2 linked regions of the Homo sapiens genome follow. The protein of the gene in region 2 interacts with the protein of the main gene of each other region in a pairwise test. Each region holds a gene or a part of one and is shown on either strand. Other genes may lie near its edges. The genes, in order: DYDC2 and UBXN2A.

The links.
Region 1: the proteins of UBXN2A (region 2) and DYDC2 interact in binary tests that used the Homo sapiens proteins (3 or more experiments, as listed by UniProt).

The regions. Positions count from the first base shown.
Region 1 is NC_000010.11:80,359,471-80,367,755, reverse strand, and holds part of DYDC2 (DPY30 domain-containing protein 2), read right to left. Parts: intron 5,322-8,285; coding exon of another isoform or gene 5,313-5,321; coding exon 5,166-5,312; intron 4,806-5,165; coding exon 4,683-4,805; intron 1,069-4,682; coding exon 805-1,068; coding exon of another isoform or gene 791-804; 3' UTR 1-790.
Region 2 is NC_000002.12:23,935,583-23,944,415, reverse strand, and holds the start of UBXN2A (UBX domain-containing protein 2A), read right to left. Parts: upstream 3,954-8,833; 5' UTR 3,768-3,953; intron 3,732-3,767; exon of another isoform or gene 3,560-3,731; intron 1-3,559. UniProt on the Homo sapiens protein: Acts to repress the ubiquitination and subsequent endoplasmic reticulum-associated degradation of CHRNA3 by the STUB1-VCP-UBXN2A complex in cortical neurons.

The sequences.
Region 1 (8,285 bases), on a different chromosome or scaffold from region 2:
TATCTGCTATCAGTGACATAGGTAGACTCCAGGATATGTGTAAAAAATACTCGGAGAGGCCTGACTGTGAAGTGAAGCAAAAGTTAAGACATGAACACACGAGATGGATGTGTGTTGGGAGGAAAGCTTAGTGTTGGGAGAAAAGTTGAGGCAGGGCTTGGAACATGTCCGGGGTCCAGGATAAAACCCCTTGTGGCCTTTGTAATGTGTCCAGACTTGCTGGCTCCTTGCTTCTAGCACTCCCATTATCTCAAGTAGCCATATGTTTCAAAGAAAATGCTAAACCCTCACAGCTGTAGTTCATTCGCTTGATACACCACTTTCTTTCAACTCCCACATCCTCATCACCTGTTTCTTTGTTTGATCACCAACAAATAGTGTGGGCTTCCAGAGCTTGGGGACTTCACAGCCTCCATACTAGCATTGGCCCCCTGGTCCCACTTTCTCTCTTGACTTGTCTTTTCTCTTTCCTTTGACTCGGCTGGACTTTGTAGCCCCCATGGCCGGGTGTTGGGTCTGATCACCCCAACAGATGTGTTTTCATTGTGTAGTCTCCAAAACGTTGATAAAACAAGAGGAAAAAGTCACAGCCACTTGGTTACTTATTTTAAATCCTTATTCTGAGTTTATTTTATCCTATAACTAGTTCAAATGTTCACATGATTAAGGGTTTTTCAGAAAAGGAGTAGGCTGGAGAGTCCCTGAACTTGCCTTTTACAGCCCCTTAAATCTTGGTTCTAGCTGGCCATTTTCTTGGCTTCTAGCTTTGAGAGAAGTAAATCAGAAGCATCTACCTTCTGTAACCTAAAAAGGAGATTTGGAGCCAGGAGGCATTTCATGAGCAACTTCATGCTGAAAAGCCTCCTTGTAATTTATTTCTTGTGGCATTTTGAAGTTCTGGTCAATCTGGCCAGCAGACTCTGAAGGAGGAACCTGTTGAGGCATTCCTGGAATCAGACTGGAAGTACCTGGCAGGAATTCCTGCTTCAAGGCCTCCTTCTCAAGGGGGTTTGTGTCCTCCTGCATGAATATGGTCTTCTTCGTGGAAACAGTTTCAGAAGTCAGTTCCTAAATAGAAAACAAAAAAGCCGAAAACTTATTATTAGAGACTAAAGCACACAAGATGTATGGCAAAAACACAGTATTGCTATTTTCATGCCAGAGACTAAGAACCAAACTGAAATAGCCCTGCTTTAACAAAGCATAAAACCAAACCTATAGGATCAAGTTGATTCACCAATAATTTAACTGCCTGCCAGAACAAAACCCATCATCTTTTCATGGAAAACAACACAATCTAGACTCCCTATAAAACGTCCTCTACAATGTCCAGAACACAAGTAATAATTACCAGAAGTAAAAAAGTAGGAAAATGTGAACCATAATCTAGAGGAAAAGTATTCAACAGAAAAAGGCCCCAGAATGGGCTGGGCGTGGTGGCTTATGCCTGTAATCCCAGCACTTTGGGAGGCCGAGGTGGGTGGGTCATGAGGTCAGGAGTTTGAGACCAGCCTGGCCAACATGCTGAAACCCCGTCTCTACTAAAAATAAAAAAATTAGCTGGGTGTGGTGGCGGGCGCCTGTAATCCCAGCTACTTGGGAGGCTGAGGCAGGAGAATCACTTGAACCGGGGAGGCAGAGGTTGCAGTGAGCCAAGATCTTGCCACTGCACTCCAGCTTGGGTGACAAAGTGAGACTCCGTCTCAAAAAAAAAAAAAAAAAAAAAAGAGAAAGAAAAAGGTCCCAAAATGACAAAGATGGTGGAATTAACAGACAAGGACAGCTATTATAAATATTTTCAAAAATCCAAGGTAGAAAATGGACATAATGTAAGAGTTAAGATGTATCAGCAGAGAAAATGAGAATTATATTTAAAAAACTAAATAGAAATTCTATAAATGAAAAGTACAATATCTGAAGTGAAAAAATCCACAGAATCCCCAGATAGGATATAGGGCATTGCAGAAGAAATGGTCAGTAAACATGAAGGTTTATCAGTAGAAATTATCCAAACTGAACCACACAGGAAAAAAACAAACAAGCTTCAGTGACCTATGAGACAATATTGAGCAGTCTAACATCCATGTCCCTGGCTGAGGTAGGAATCCTTGGAGCTTAGGCTCTACTGATCCCCTCCACTTCAATCTTTGCCTGGAAGTTGTACAGGTCCATTCTACAATGAGCCCCGTGGAGTTCATCCTTGTCCACATGGTCTCTGAGACCCTTCTACACTTCAAACTATTGAGTCTATGCAGCAAATATCTATTCATTCTATAAAAATACATTTCTAAAACATTTGTATAGTTTAGATCTTTATAAACAATAGTTTTCTTCTGACTCAGAAACAAAATTATGGTTTACTTAAAGCTGCATCTGCTTAATGAAGAGACATCAATACCAAGGATAACCTCTGCCTGACTTAAATTCTACCTCCTCTATGGATACTTTTTGGTTCAGATAATTGGGTATGATCCCTACCATACATAGCATTCTGTTTCTGTTCCTCTTTTGATACATCCACTAGATAAGCACTATTCAATCTGGGATACTTAAAGACTTGCTAACCTGTATCCAAGTCATGATGTTTTTTTGTTTTTTTTTAAAGCGATCAAGGAAAAAACTGCAAAGCTTTGAGTATATGCATATCAGTTCATCAGGTAAACTAGCAGCCCTGCTGAAATTTCATGCAACCCATCCTGGGCCAGTTTGAAATTGGTTTTCCCAGCACTAGTCACACAAAAGGTGAAGGTGACCAATAGCAAGGAGCAATTTGTAATCCACCTTGAATCAATCAGAAACCAGAACTTGGAATCTTGTCTTTTTGATACACCTGTGCCTCTTTGTCCTTTATTTAGCCTTGTCAAAGTTTGCTTGGAGAGTAACTCACATCTTAATGTTGTGGCTCTCTCTTGCCAGGTAAACTATAAATTTGCTTCATTTTAGATCACTCTTGGGTTCTCTTTATTTCCTTCTAACATAGGGAATCAATTTCCATAATCATAACCTACACATGAACTCTTTTCTAAAACTGAGAACTTGCACATAGTCTAGACATTGTGCTTGTTGTCATTTCCCATCTTCCCTTACAACTGCCTACATCACACACTTGGCAAAAGAATGACATACCATTTACTTATCTAAATCTTGTTAAAAAATATTGCTGCAGGATGCAAAACCTCAGTGAAACACAAAAAGACAATTCAAAATATTGATGTGAACCGAGAAATTTTCCTTAATAAAGCTACCATAAAACTAGGGTGAAGTTTTGGGAGTCTTCTTTATATATTTCTTATTGCCTTATATATTTCTATTTCTATTAACAGTAAAGCATGGTGTTAGAAATGGATTAGAGGTGCACAGCAAGGTGATGACAAATTTTGCTGAATGATCCTCACCTCTCCCATCTCCAAACAATTGCTTAAAGAAGGAATTCTTCCTGAGGGAGAGTTCCTTTAGACTATTGTCAAACAATAGAATGAAACTATCTTTTGATTTAATTTATTTACAAGACATCCAGGCTTAAAAAAGCAAATCTATTCTTTATGAGGACATTGAGTATATTAGTATAAATGTAAATAAGCTTAATATTTTCATGTCTTCAAATTGGCTTGGAAGCTAACAAATGCTGGTGAATTGTAATGGACTGCATTAAAGACTTTAATGCACAGAGTATAGTCATAGCTAAAAAGATGTCATATATCAAACCCAACATTGCAATTGAGACGACTCTCTATCCAGGTATCTACCACTTTGTAGAAAGCATAGAATAGCATAAGGCGTTTTTCAGGAGATTGTGAAAAAAACTGTGGGAGGTAAAAGATAGGCTTGTCAGACTGACGAATGCAGAGTTGTCTTCGGCTATTCCAGCTTAATAACTTACATCTAATATTATAACATCACAGAGGAGGCATCTGAAGTTTCACAGAAAAGTAAATAGAATATAATAAACCAAATACTAAATACTAAGTTAAATATCTGAAGTATGCACTGATAACAATCATATTTGGTTTCTGAAAAATACTGAATACTACTTGAAAAGGGCTCAAAGGATCTTATATGAAAAAATATTTGTTCCAAGTGAATAGATTTTTTAAAAATCAGATTTTTTGGCTGGGCGTGGTGGCTCACGCCTGTAATCCCAGCACTTTGGGAGGCCGAGGTGGGCAGATCATGAGGTCAGGAGATCAAGACCATCCTGGTTAACATGGTAAAACCCTGTCTCTACTAAAAAAAAAAAAAAAAAATTAGCCGGGCGTGGTGGCATGTGCCTGTAGTCCCAGATACTCGGGAGGCTGAGACAGGAGAATCACTTGAACCCAGGAGGCAGAGGCTGTAGTGAGACGAGATCGCTCCACTGTGCTCCAGCCTGGGCAACAGAGCGAGACTCCATCTCAAAAAAAAAAAAAAAAAAAAAAAAAACAGATTTTTTTTAAAACCAGTAACACCAGAGTATTTCCTAAAATCTAAGACAAATTTGTCTTTTAACATCTCCTTTTTTCATTAACAAAGATTGTCAATAACATTGGTTTATATGCAAATATGTGAATACTTGCACATATATTGAAAATCAAGCTAAAGGGACCCTTAATGTGCCTTGGATTGGGACTGGGCTGACTTGTGGCTTTCCTGGAGTCCATCACTGGGATGTGTGTGGCAACCCAAAGCTGAGTCCTTCTCCCTACCTTGTGACACTTTTCACAGTTCTGTTGAATCTGATACTCTTCCTGTTTCAGCATTTCTGTCATTTCCATTTCCTTGAGGCTACTGTCATATTCCTCCTGCAGGTGGATCTTCTTTTCCCTATTCTGGGGTGAGGTGACAGAGTCAAATCAGGTCAGCAACCAGGGAAGCCTTATAAACGGGGCCCCCTCACTGGGGACTGATATGGGCTGTGGGCTCTTTGGGCCTGTTGAGTTTCCTCTTGTAACTAGCTTTAGCCTGCTAGTAGTTACAAACCCTTCAACTCCACAGCTCGTCTGAGTTGAAGCTCCACTCCTCTGAGTTAGCCCCCAGGATCCCCATGCTTCAGGGATATCTGGCTCTAAGAGCAAGTCAAATAAACCAAGAAATTCCCCAGGCCAGCTCCAGAATCCTGCCTTGTGTCTTGGCTTTCAAATTACTCTGGGAAAGCTGGGCCCTCCCTAAGTCCCAGTGCACATACACACCTCTTCTTTTGCTTTTGCTGTTTTCCTGTAATGATAAAGCCAGTGAGCCAGGTATTCTATTGGGTCACTGGGCCGAACCTTCGCCACCTCTGCCAGTGCCTGGGCCAGGCAATTTCCAAAGCACCTCTTCAGGTAGTTAGTTTCCATCCTGGCAGCCTGGAAAACATCAAAACAAAGTCACACTATTTTACAAACTTAATCTGATATTAAAAATAGACACATTCTAACCAATTCAGATTTATTTCAGGATAAATATGAGATGCTTCTGGATCACACCTTTCCCAAAAGAACCAACAAACACTTACTTGCTGTTATATTCAGTGGAGGATTGTGCCATGAAACAACCTAGGACCTGGCCTCCTCCTGACGGAGTCCATATTCCTGAAGTTGACACATTTTAATTCCAAAAGAGCCCAGCAAATAATAAAAGCTCAGATCTAGCCTTAACATTTTCTGGAGGCATTTTTCAATTTGTCCCCCTACTTCTCATATTTTAGCTTAAGGAAGGAAAAACAAGTAGACAGATATCCATATCTATCTTATACATATCTATCTTATGGACATAGGAAAAAATATTTCCTAGCTCTCTCCACTGCAAGGGCCTTGAAACCAAAACACTTCAGTAGCAATGAGCACGCTAAGCATATAAACCTTGCTTGTAAATAGCCTTCATCACTTAAGAGGAATCAGGGCTCCTTGGAGAAATGGCTGATTCCAAGGCTGGGGCAGGACAAGCCTAACGAGCCTGGAACATTTTGTTGTGCCAGAAAGTAAGAAAATTCTAAAAAATACAATCGTTGGGGACAGAGAAGCCAGCTTGAAGGGGCTCCTACTAGTCAAATCTGGGGCAGTTTGACCATTAAAATAGTGACTGTAATGGATTATAACTTACAGAATAAAATAAGAATCCATGAGTCCATATGAGAATATATAAGTAGATTAAGAAGGGAGAAGGCAAAGTTCTTTGTTAAAGTAGAATGCCAACTAATAAATGTGGGGAAAATAATGGAGTTTTAAAAAACTGCCATTTCCTCACCACCATAGTATAACTGAATCAAAGCAGGATCATCAATGAGTCAATGAGTGCTAAACCTGGGTGATCATTTGACAAGGAATAAGATATATGCATAGTCTCAAAGTTTCTTCTCACAAATTAAGTATTAATTCCAAAGGAAATACAGAAATTTTACAGTGGCAAAACCTGGCCAACAAAACCTTAACCAAGTAATCAAAGTAAACATCACCAACAAAGGAACAAAGTGACATCAACTGCCTCCTGATGTGATGCACTTCTTATGGTACATAAAACATTTCCGTGGATTCCTGCCTAAAATGCAATATTTGAATGTAATTGAAGAAACATCAAATAAATCCAAAGCAACTACCCTGTACTCTTAAAAATGTTGAGGGTATGAAAAAAAAAAGAGTAACTGTTATAGATCAAAGGAGATTGAACAGCCATAATAACTACATGTAACACATGATCCTAGATTGGGCCTGGACAAGAAAAAATAATTCAGCTGGGCATGGTGGTGCACGCCTATAAATCCAGCACTTTGGGAGGCTGAGGCAGGAGGATCACTTGAGCTCAGGGGTTTGATACCAGCCTGGGCAACAAGGCAAAACCCTGTCTCCACAAAAAATACAAAAATTAGCCAGGTGTGATGGCACACACCTGCAGTCCCAGCTACTTGGAGGGGTTGGGGGCAGGGCTGAGGTGGGAGGATCACTTGAGCCCAGGAGGTTGTGGCTGCAATGCGTTGAGATCTCACCACTGCACTCCAACCTGGGTGACAGAGCGAGACCCTGTCTAAAAAAAAAAAAAAAGAAAGAAAGAAAAGAAGAAGAAAGAATTCTATAAAGGGCATTGTTGGGAAAATTGGTTGAACTGAATGTGAAATGTAGATTATGTGACATAATTTATCCAAGTTAAATTTCTTAATTTTGAATAATGGAAATATGAGTAAGAGAATGTCCTTGTTCTAGGGCTGAATAATGGCTCCCAAATGTGTCTATGTCTGAATACCTGGAAACTATGAATATGTCACCTTAAATGGCAAAAGAGACTTTGTAACTGTGATTAAATTAAGGATCTTGAGATAGGGGGATTATCCTGGATTATCTGAGTAGGAACAATGTAATCACAGGTGTCACTATAAGAGGGACACAGTACGGTCAGACAGGGAAGGTGATGACAGAGCCAAGGGAGAAAAAGCGATGTGATTCAGGGCCTTGAGCCAAGGGTATCCTCTAGAAGCTGGAAAAGACAAGAAAATGGATTCTCCCCAGAGCCTCCTGAGGAACCTGCCCTGCTGACACTTTGGTTTTAGCTCTATAAGATTCATTTTGGACTTCTGACCCCAAGACCTGTAAGGGAATTAAAAAAAAATTGAGTGGGGTAGTGATGGAGGGTGGGGACAGAGGTGGGTGGTGTCTCCTGCCAATCTGTGTGGCCCACTTGAACCAATGCATTTGGATAAACAAACTTCTACACCCCTCTTACTCAAAGCTAGTCTGACGACAGATGACCAGCAGCATTCCATCACCTGGGTGAGAGGTGACAGCGTGCTGGCAGCCCTCTCTTGCTCTTGGCACCTCCTCGGCCTTGGTGCCCACTCTGGCCATGCTTGAGGAGCCCTTCAGCCCGCCGCTGCACTGTGGGAGCCCCTCTGGGCTGGCCAAGGCCGGAGCCGGCTCTGCTTGCAGGGAGGTGTGGAGGGAGAGGCGCGGGCGGGAAATGGGGCCGCGTGTGGCACTCGCAGGCCAGCGCAAGTTCCGGGTGGGCGCGGGCTTGGTGGGCCCCGCACTCGGATCAGCCGGCCAGCACTGCAGGCCCCAGGCAGTGAGGAGCTTAGCACTGGGCCAGCAGCTGCAGAGGGTGTGCTGGGTCCCCCAGCAGTGCCGGCCTGCCAGCACTTTGCTCGAATTCTTGCCGGGCCTCTACTGCCTCCCCACGGGGCTCCGGACATGCAGCCCGCCATGCCCGAGCCTCCCCCGCACCGTGGGCTCCTGTGCTGTCGGAGCCTCCCTGATGAGCGCCACCCACTGCTCCGCGGTGCCCGGTCCCATCGACCGCCCAAGGGCTGAGGAGTGCGGGCACACTACGTGGGACTGGCAGGC
Region 2 (8,833 bases):
GACAAACTGAAAGATGGGTGAATACAATAATGTGTAGGAAGATGATGCTGGTCACCTCAGTTCTTCACACAGCTGCCAGCCCTACAAATAACACAGTAAGAACCAGGACAACCACTCCAGACTGGTATAGCTGGGGAATCTTCAGGCCTTTTCCTAGGTCCCACATCAAGTGTTGGATCCCATTCCAGGTATGATACATGAGAGGGAAGACGAGTGCAAACTTAGTTGTGTCCATCAGTGCTGGCCCCAGACACAGGGACCAATGAGTTCCAAGTAAGACTTAAACTTTCCTGGGAGTAACAGGGCTGACATGCCAAAAAGAGACCCCTGTGCTCAAAGCAATACCAGAGCCATGGTGGCAGATGGACATCGACATAGGAAGACACCAACTCTAGATAGTGACGTGGGGAGATACGGGACGGTTTGAACCTGTGTTCTTATTCCAGAACCATTCCATCTCTTCTTTGGCCATGATTCCCAAAGGAACAGCATTTCTGATACAAAGCTGAGGGCTAAAGTGCGCTCGGAGGCAATGACCACTCCAACATGTCTCAGCAAGAGTGCAGCCATCTTGGGTTCTGGTCTGGACGGAAATGCAAAGCTCATTTTAAATATAATCTCCTTTAGCTGGGCACGGTGGTTTAAGCCTGTAATCCCAGCACTTTGGGAGGCCAAGACGGGCAGATTACCTGAGGTCAGGAGTTCGAGACCAGCCTGACCGACATGGTGAAACCCTGTCTCTCTCTACTAAAAATACAAAATTAGCTGGGTGTGGTGGTGCATACCTGTAATCCCAACTACTTGGGAGGCTGAGGCAGGAGAATTGCTTGAACCCAGGAGGCAGAAGTTGCCATGAGCCAAGATTGGGTCATTGCACTCCAACCTGGGTGGCAAGAACAAAACTCTATCTCAAATAAATAAAAACATACATACATACAATCTCCTTTAGAAAACCTTCCATGATTCCTCCAATAGGTGTGAATATAAAATTATTAACATGAGAAGAGATCAGTTAGGTACTCTTAAATTTTCAATGCCTTCATTGCCACAATTCTAGTCCCAACCACCATCAACTCTAGGTGGTCTCCTCATTTCCATTCTTGTCCCCATCCAATCCAGTTTCTACACAGCAGTCAGGACGACTTTTTGAAATAAAAAGTTGGCCAGGCACGGTGGCTCACGCCTGTAATTCCAGCACTTTGGGAGGCTGAAGTGGGCAGATCAGAAGGTCTGGAGTTCGAGACCAGCCTGGCCAACACAGTGAAACCCCGTCTCTACCAAAAATACAAAAAACTAGCCAGGCATGGTGGCGCATGCCTGTAATCCCAGCTACTCGGGAGGCTGAGGCAGGAGAATCGTTTGAACCCGGGAGGCAGAGGTTGCAGTGAGCGGAGATTGCACCACAGCACTCCTGCCTGTGCGAGACTCCGTCTCAAAAAAAAAAAAAAGTTGTTTGTAGTAAGACTTACCTTGCTTTAAACTTTTTTTTTTTCTGACGGAGGTAAACCTTTAAACGACTTCCTATTACTGTTAAAATAACATCCAAGTCATTTGGGTAATATTACGGGAGAGTTCATTGTACTGTTCTCTCCCTACATTTGAGTGGTTTGAAAAGTTTTCTATAAAAGTTTAAAAAAGAAAAAGAAACAGAAAAAGCTGGTCCCAAATCCTTAACATTGCTTAAAAGGCCCTGCATCAGCCGGGCACGGTGGCTCACGTCTGTAATCCCAGCACTCTGGGAGGCCGAGGTGGGTGGATCACCAGAGGTCAGGATTTTGAGACCAGTCTGACCAACACAGTGAAACTCCATCTCTACTAAAAATACAAAAATTAGCCGGGCATGGTGGCGCGCATTATAGTCCCAGCTACTCGGGAGGCTGAGGCAGGAGAATCGCTTGAATCCGGAAGAGATTGCAGTGAGCCAAGATCGTGCCGCTGCACTCCAGCCTGGGTGACAGAGCGAGACTCTGTAACAAAAAAAAAAAAAAAAAAAAAAGCCCTGCATCATCTCTTTGGCCCTAACCTACTTTATCACAGCACCCTTTTGCTTTCCACACAACAACTGCTGAAGTTCCTGAAATGACCATCTTCCCTAGCCTCCGCGCCATCTATTTCCTTTGCCTGAGCCTTTCTTCTCTCCTTTGGGAGTCATCTTCCCCTAATTCCTATTTATCCCTAATATCTAAGCTCAAAGATTACTTTCCTAGGAAAACTTTCCCAGCTTGGATAAGTCCCCCTGTTACCTTCTCTCACAAACAACTTACATTCTTTATTTTAGCCTCTGTCTTTGCTTATTGGCATTTATTTGTGTGATTATTTATTTTATTTTACTTTTTGAGATGGAGTCCCGCTCTGTCACCCAGGCTGGAGTGCAGTGGCACCATCTTGGCTCACTGCAACCTCTACCTCTCGCCGGCTCAAGCTATTCTCCTGCCTCAGTTTTTCTGAGTAGCTGGGATTACAGACGCCCCCCATCACGCCCAGCTAATTTCTGTATTTTTAGTAGAGAGAGACGGGGTTTCACCATGTTAGCCAGGCTGGTCTAGAACTGCTGACCTCAGGTGATCTGCCCACCTCAGCCTTTCAAAGTGCTGGGATTACAGGCGTGAGCCATCGCTCCGGGCCCTGATTATTTGCTTAATATCTGTTTTGCCCAATGACACTGTAGAGTCTAAAGGCAGAGTCTGTAATTGTCACTATTGTATCCTTAGCATTCAGTACACAGTAGGTACTAAAATTTTTTTGAATGAAAAAAATTAAATCAAGTGTATGCTAATTATTATACATTATTAAATTAAAATGCAAGTAAAGTACCCTCCACAGTGCCCAGCTGAAAACAACTGCTCAGTAAGTGTGAGCTTCCATTAACACTGGACTGCAGTCAGCCTCATATCATTAGTGTGCTTAACCACTCCCTCCTGCACACATTTTTTACACATTTTTGGACTCCGCCAGTGCCTAGCACTAACATTAGTGTTATAAAAAGATACTCTGTATTCACTGAATTTAATTGCCTTTTAAATAAATCCGACTTTCAGCATATTTAGAAAGAAGACACAACATGAACTTTTAAAGTTTCCCCCCTAAAAACAAACTGCAACCGGCCAGACTTCATACTACCACATTATTTTCTGCATTCGCATCAAAACAAATCAGCAGTTTCCTATCTTTACTTATCTCAAATTACGTACATAGGAACTCAACGCTGGATGCCACACGAACATTCATCATTGCTGACAAGTAATAAACTCTTTTATTACTGGCAGCGAAAAGGAAAAAAAAAAGGCACAAAGAAGAAATTAAGGAAACGTGAAATCAGCGAACACCAGGCCTTCAAAACATCAGAGAAAGTGAGTGGTGGGAGTCGGGTGAAGTCACTAATAGGCATACTTTGTATCACTGGACTGCGATCGTGCAGCGTTCGCCTTTGAAAATAGAAACATTGTGTTGCGCATAACTGTAAGTTTCGGAACGCCCTGCGAGAGAACCAGGAGCTGTGCCTTCAGCTAGCTCGCAAGTCAAGCCGCAGGCGAGTCAGGGGCTCGGGGTCGCCGCTCACCTGGGCTGGGCGGGACCCTGGCTCGGGCTCCGCCGCCGGCGCCCCTTCCCGAGTCGCAAACACGCGGCCCTCCGGAGCGAGACTCCCCCCGACACCGACGATCCGCGGCGGCCAAGCCACAGGCCGCGACCCCTCGGCCCCAGCCGGCAGGCGACCGCCCCGCCCCGCCCTCACCCCGCCGGACGCGGCGCGGCCCCGGGACGCTCACCTCCGGGCACGGCCTCCCGGCCTCGGCCTCACTCAGCTCAGGCACCGCAGGCACCGTTTGGCCGCGGGCTCCGTTTGGCTGGAGCCCTTCAGAGCCGGAGCGCCGCCGCCCCAGACCGCCTCAGGTTCCGCGGCCGCGCCGCTGAGATCCCGCCAGCCTCTCTCGGTCTTCGCCAGGCGCCCAAGCGCGCGCCGACGCCGGCTCCGCGCAGACCCGAGGAGCGCGCGCGGACGCGGGGGCGCGCCGAGGGCGGGGCTTGCCGCGGCCGGGCGCTTCAAGTCCCGGCGGGAACGGCGCTAATGGCCGCCTCCCCTTCCCACCACTGGCCCGGCGGCTAGCTGCCTTCATGGGTAGGGGAGATGCAGGCAGCTCGGTGTGTGCTCACCAGAGAACCCAGAGTGTGCTTACCTGGGTACCTCCTCAGCCTCAGAAACCATGGAGAGACATCCCTGCATTCTGACAATGTTGAACTTGACCTGAGCCCTGTGGACAACGAAGTTGAAGAAACCCCCACCCACCTTTTTTTTTTTTTTTTTTTGAGACTAAATCTCGCTCTTGTCCCCCAGGTTGGAATACAATGGCGCGATCTTGGCTCACCGCAACCTCCGCCTCCCGGATTCGAGCGATTCTCCTGCCTCAGCCTCCGGAGTAGCTGGGATTACAGGCGCCTGCCAGCACGCCCGGCTAATTTTTGTATTTTTAGTAGAGACGGGGTTTCACCATGTTGGCCAGGCTGGTCTTGAACTCCTGACCTCAGGTGATCCGCCCGCCTTGGTCTCCCAATGTGCTGGGATTACAGGCGTGAGCCACCGCGCCCGGCCCCTTTGTGTTCCTAAAAGGACTTACTACACGCAACCGCCCTTCCGCATGTGACTTTGTCAGGACTCAAGGATGCCCCCGTCGTTAGCTGTGACAAGGTCAGGCCCAGACCCTCTAAATTCCAGTTCTTCGCCTCGCAAATAGTTAGCTGACCTGCCTGTACTCACGATGTGGACAAATCCCGGCTGCCTTGACTTGACAGGACTTGAGTGAAGCAGCTCTCCCTGGGCCTCTCTACACGGTGACCGAGCCTCAGCCGCAGCCAGCGAGCAGCCCTCCTCATCCACCGCCTGAAAATAGACGGACCCCAGGGAAACAGTCTCTGTATAGTCTCATCGCTGCCACCTCCAGTCTTCTCCCCACTTCCCCACACCCGGGTCTTTCTAGCCCTGTTCACTCATCTCTGTAAAAGGAAAGCCCTTTTCTGCCTGACCCAGGAGATCGCTGCAGATCTCATGGTTGGAGAGTTCTCCCGGTTGCTGTAGCCTCCCCCAATCCCCACTCTCAGTTGCAATAGTTTCTTTCCCTTTTCTTGGATCTCTTCCACTGAACTCTCTCCTTACGTATATCCAGATTTGTTTTTTATTTTATAGTCCAGCATTCTCCCAATTGCAACAGTCCTTCTTCCTATTGCAATAGTTCTCCACCCTTATTGCAATAGTCCTTTTCCCCCCTGTTGCAATAATCCTTTCCGAATAAAGTCTCGGTTTGCCTAAATCGGGATTTATTTGTAAGTCTTTAGTGCGGGGACTCAGATTGAGATTGATCCTCACCTACAGGCCCATGCCGTTCCCCCCACCACCACCTCCCTCATCTCCTGTTCAGTGATTTTGGGAGCCTGTGGTGAGTTCAAATCTCACTGCTCATGAGACCGTGTCTGTTGAAGCACAATAAGGAGTTAAATTGATCCCATTAGGCAAAGAGACTTTTCTTTGACCATTCTGTGAGAGCTCTTCCGATTTTTTGGTCCCAGCACCATTTAATGAAGAGAGGATTCTTCCCTTGTCAAAAATCAATTGACCATGGATGTATAAATTTATTTCTGTACTCTCAATTCTATTCCATTGATTATGTATCTTATCTTTATGCTAGTACCATACTATTTTGATTACTGTAGCTGTATAGTAGCTGTATACAGCTGTATAGTAGCTGTATAGAAATCAGGAAGTTTGAGTCCTCCAACTTTGCTCCTCTTTTTCAAGATTGTTTTGTCGCTTGCAGTTCTGTATGAATTTTAGCTCAGCTTTTCCATTGCTGTTAAAAAAAAAAAAAAAGGGAGGGGGGGGCCACTGGGATTTTGACAGGGATTGCTTTGAATTGGTAGATCAATTTGAGGAGTATTGATACCTTCAATTTTTTTTTTGAGATGGAGTTTTGCTCTTGTTGCCCAGGCTGGAGTGCAATGGCATGATCTCGGCTCACTATAACCTCCGCCTCCCAGGTTCTAGTGATTCTCCTGCCTCAGCCTCCCAAGTAGCTGGGATTATAGGCATGCACCACCATGCCCAGCTAATTTTTGTATTTTTAGTAGAGACAGGGTTTCACCATGTTGGTCAGGCTGGTCTTGAACTCCCGACCTTAGATGATCCACCCGCCTCGGCCTCCCAAAGTGCCGGTATTACAGGTGTGAGCCAACACACCCAGCCGGAGTATTGATATCTTAACAATACTGGTGCGATGACTCACTTTATATATAAAGTCTTCAAATCCTTAAGCATGAATATTTTTGCATTTATAGTCGTGCGCCACATAACAACCTTTCGGTCCATGACTTACAGCATATGTGATGGTGGTCACATAAGATTATAAGGCCATATTTTTACTGTATCTTTTCTATGTTTAGATACACAAATACCATCATGTTACAATTGTCTACAGTATTCAATACAGTAACATGCTGTCCAGGTTTGTAGCCCGGGAGCAAGGCTATGCCATATTGCCTAGATGTGTAGTACACTATACCATCCAGGTTTGTGTAAGTATACTCTGTGATGTTCACACAACGACGAATTCACTTACACGACACATTTCTCAGAAGGTGCCCCCATGGTTAAGCACTACATGACCATACTTAGACCTTCTTTCATTTCTTTCAGCAGTGTTTTATAGTTTTCCACGTACAAGTCTCGTACCTCTTTGGTTAAATATATTTCAAAGTATTTTATTCTTTTTGATGCTATTGTAAAAGGAGTTGATTTATTTCCTTTTTAGATTTTTTATTGCCAGTATTTGGAAATACCACTGATTTTGTGTGTTGATCTTGTATCTAACAACTTTGCTGAATTCACTTATTAGCTCTAATCATTTGCTAGAGATGGGGTCTCCGTACATTGCCCAGGTTGATATCGAACTCCTGGGATCAAGTAATCCTTCCACCACAGTGTCCTGAGTAGCTAGGACCACAGACGTGTGCCACCATGCCCGACCAATTAAAAAAAAATTTTTTTTGTAGAGATGGAGTTTCACTGTGTTGCCCAGGCTGGTCTCGAACCCCTGGCCTCAAACTATCCTCCTGCTTGGGCCTCCCAAAGCACTGGGATTACAGGTATGAGATACCACACTTGGCCATAGTTTTATTTATTTCTTTCTAATGTGGATGCCTTTTATTTCTTTTTATTGTCTAACTGCTCTAGCTAGAACTTCCAGTACAATGTTGAATAGAAATGAAGAGGCTGGGTGTGGTGGCTTACACCTGTAATCTCAGCACTTTCGGAGGCTGAGGCAGGAGAATTGCTTGAGCCCAGGAATTTGAGACCAACCTGGGGCAACATAGCGAGACTCTATTACTAGACTTAAGAAAAACAGAAAAGAAATGATGAGGCCGGGCACGGTGGCTCATGCCTTTAATCCCAGCCCTTTGGGAGGCTTAGGCAGGTGAATCACTTGAGGCCAGGAGTTCGAGACGAGCCTGGGCAACATGGTGAAACCCCGTCTGTACTAAAAATACAAAAATTAGCCAGGCGTGGTGGCAGGCACCTGTAATCCCAGCTACTCGGGAGGCTGAGGCAGGAGAATTGCTTGAACCCAGGAGGCAGAAGTTGCAGTGAGCCGAGATCACGCCACTGCACTCCAGCCTGGGTGACAGAGCAAGACTCTGTCTCAAAAAATGATGAGAGTGGGCTTCTTTGTCTTGTTCCTAATTTTAGACAAAAAGCTTTCAGTCTCTCTCACCATTGAGTATGATGTTAGGTGTATGTTTTTCTTTTTCTTTGAGACAGAGTCTCTCTCCATCCCCACAGCCCATAGTAATCTCTATTCTACTTTCTTTCTCTCTTTTTTTTTTTGAGGTAGGATTTTCACCAGGTTGCCCAGGCTAGTCTCAAACTCCTGGACTCAAAACAATCCTCCCACCTTGGCCTCCCAAAGTGCTATGATTACAGGTCTGAGCCACCACGCACAGCCTATTCTACTTTCTGTCTCTATGAATTTGCCCATTCTAGATACCTCATATACGTGGACTCCTACAATATTTGTTCTTTTTTGTCCGGCTTATTTCACTTAGCATAATTATTTTCAAGTTCATTCATGTTATAGCATGTGTCAGTATATCATTCCCGTTTATGGTTGAATAAGATTCCATTGTATGTATATATTACATTTTGCTTATCCATTCATATGTTGACGGCCATTTGGGTTGCTTCCACCTTTCTGCTATCTTGAATAATGCTGGTATGGACTTTGGTATACAAGTATTTGATTGACTCCTTACTTTCAATTTTTTAAAATTTTTGTTTTATTGTGGCAAGAATATTTATTTATTAATTTAATTTATTTATTTTTGAGACAGCCTCCCTCTGTCACCCAGGCTGGAGTGCATTGGTGCAATCTTGACTCACTGCAACCTCCCCCTCCCAGGTTCAAGGGATTCTCTCACCTCAGCTTTTCTGACTGGCTGGGATTAAAGGTGCCCCCCAACCATGCCCAGCTAATTTTTGTATTTTTAGTAGAGATGGGGTTTCGCCATGTTGACCAGGCTGGTCTTGAACTCCTGACCTCTGGTGATCCACCCACCTCGGCTTCCCAAAGTGCTGGGATTACAGGTGTGGGCCACCGTGCCTGGCGTTTTCAATTTTTTTGAGTATATACCTAGAAGTGGAATAGGGTATTTCTGTGTTTAACTTTTCAAGGACCAGTCATATTGTTTTCCAAATAGCAGCACCATCTTACATTCCTACCAGCGATGTACTAGTGTTCTAATTTCTCTACATCTTCCCAACACTTGTTATTTTCTCTGTGTGTGTATGTGT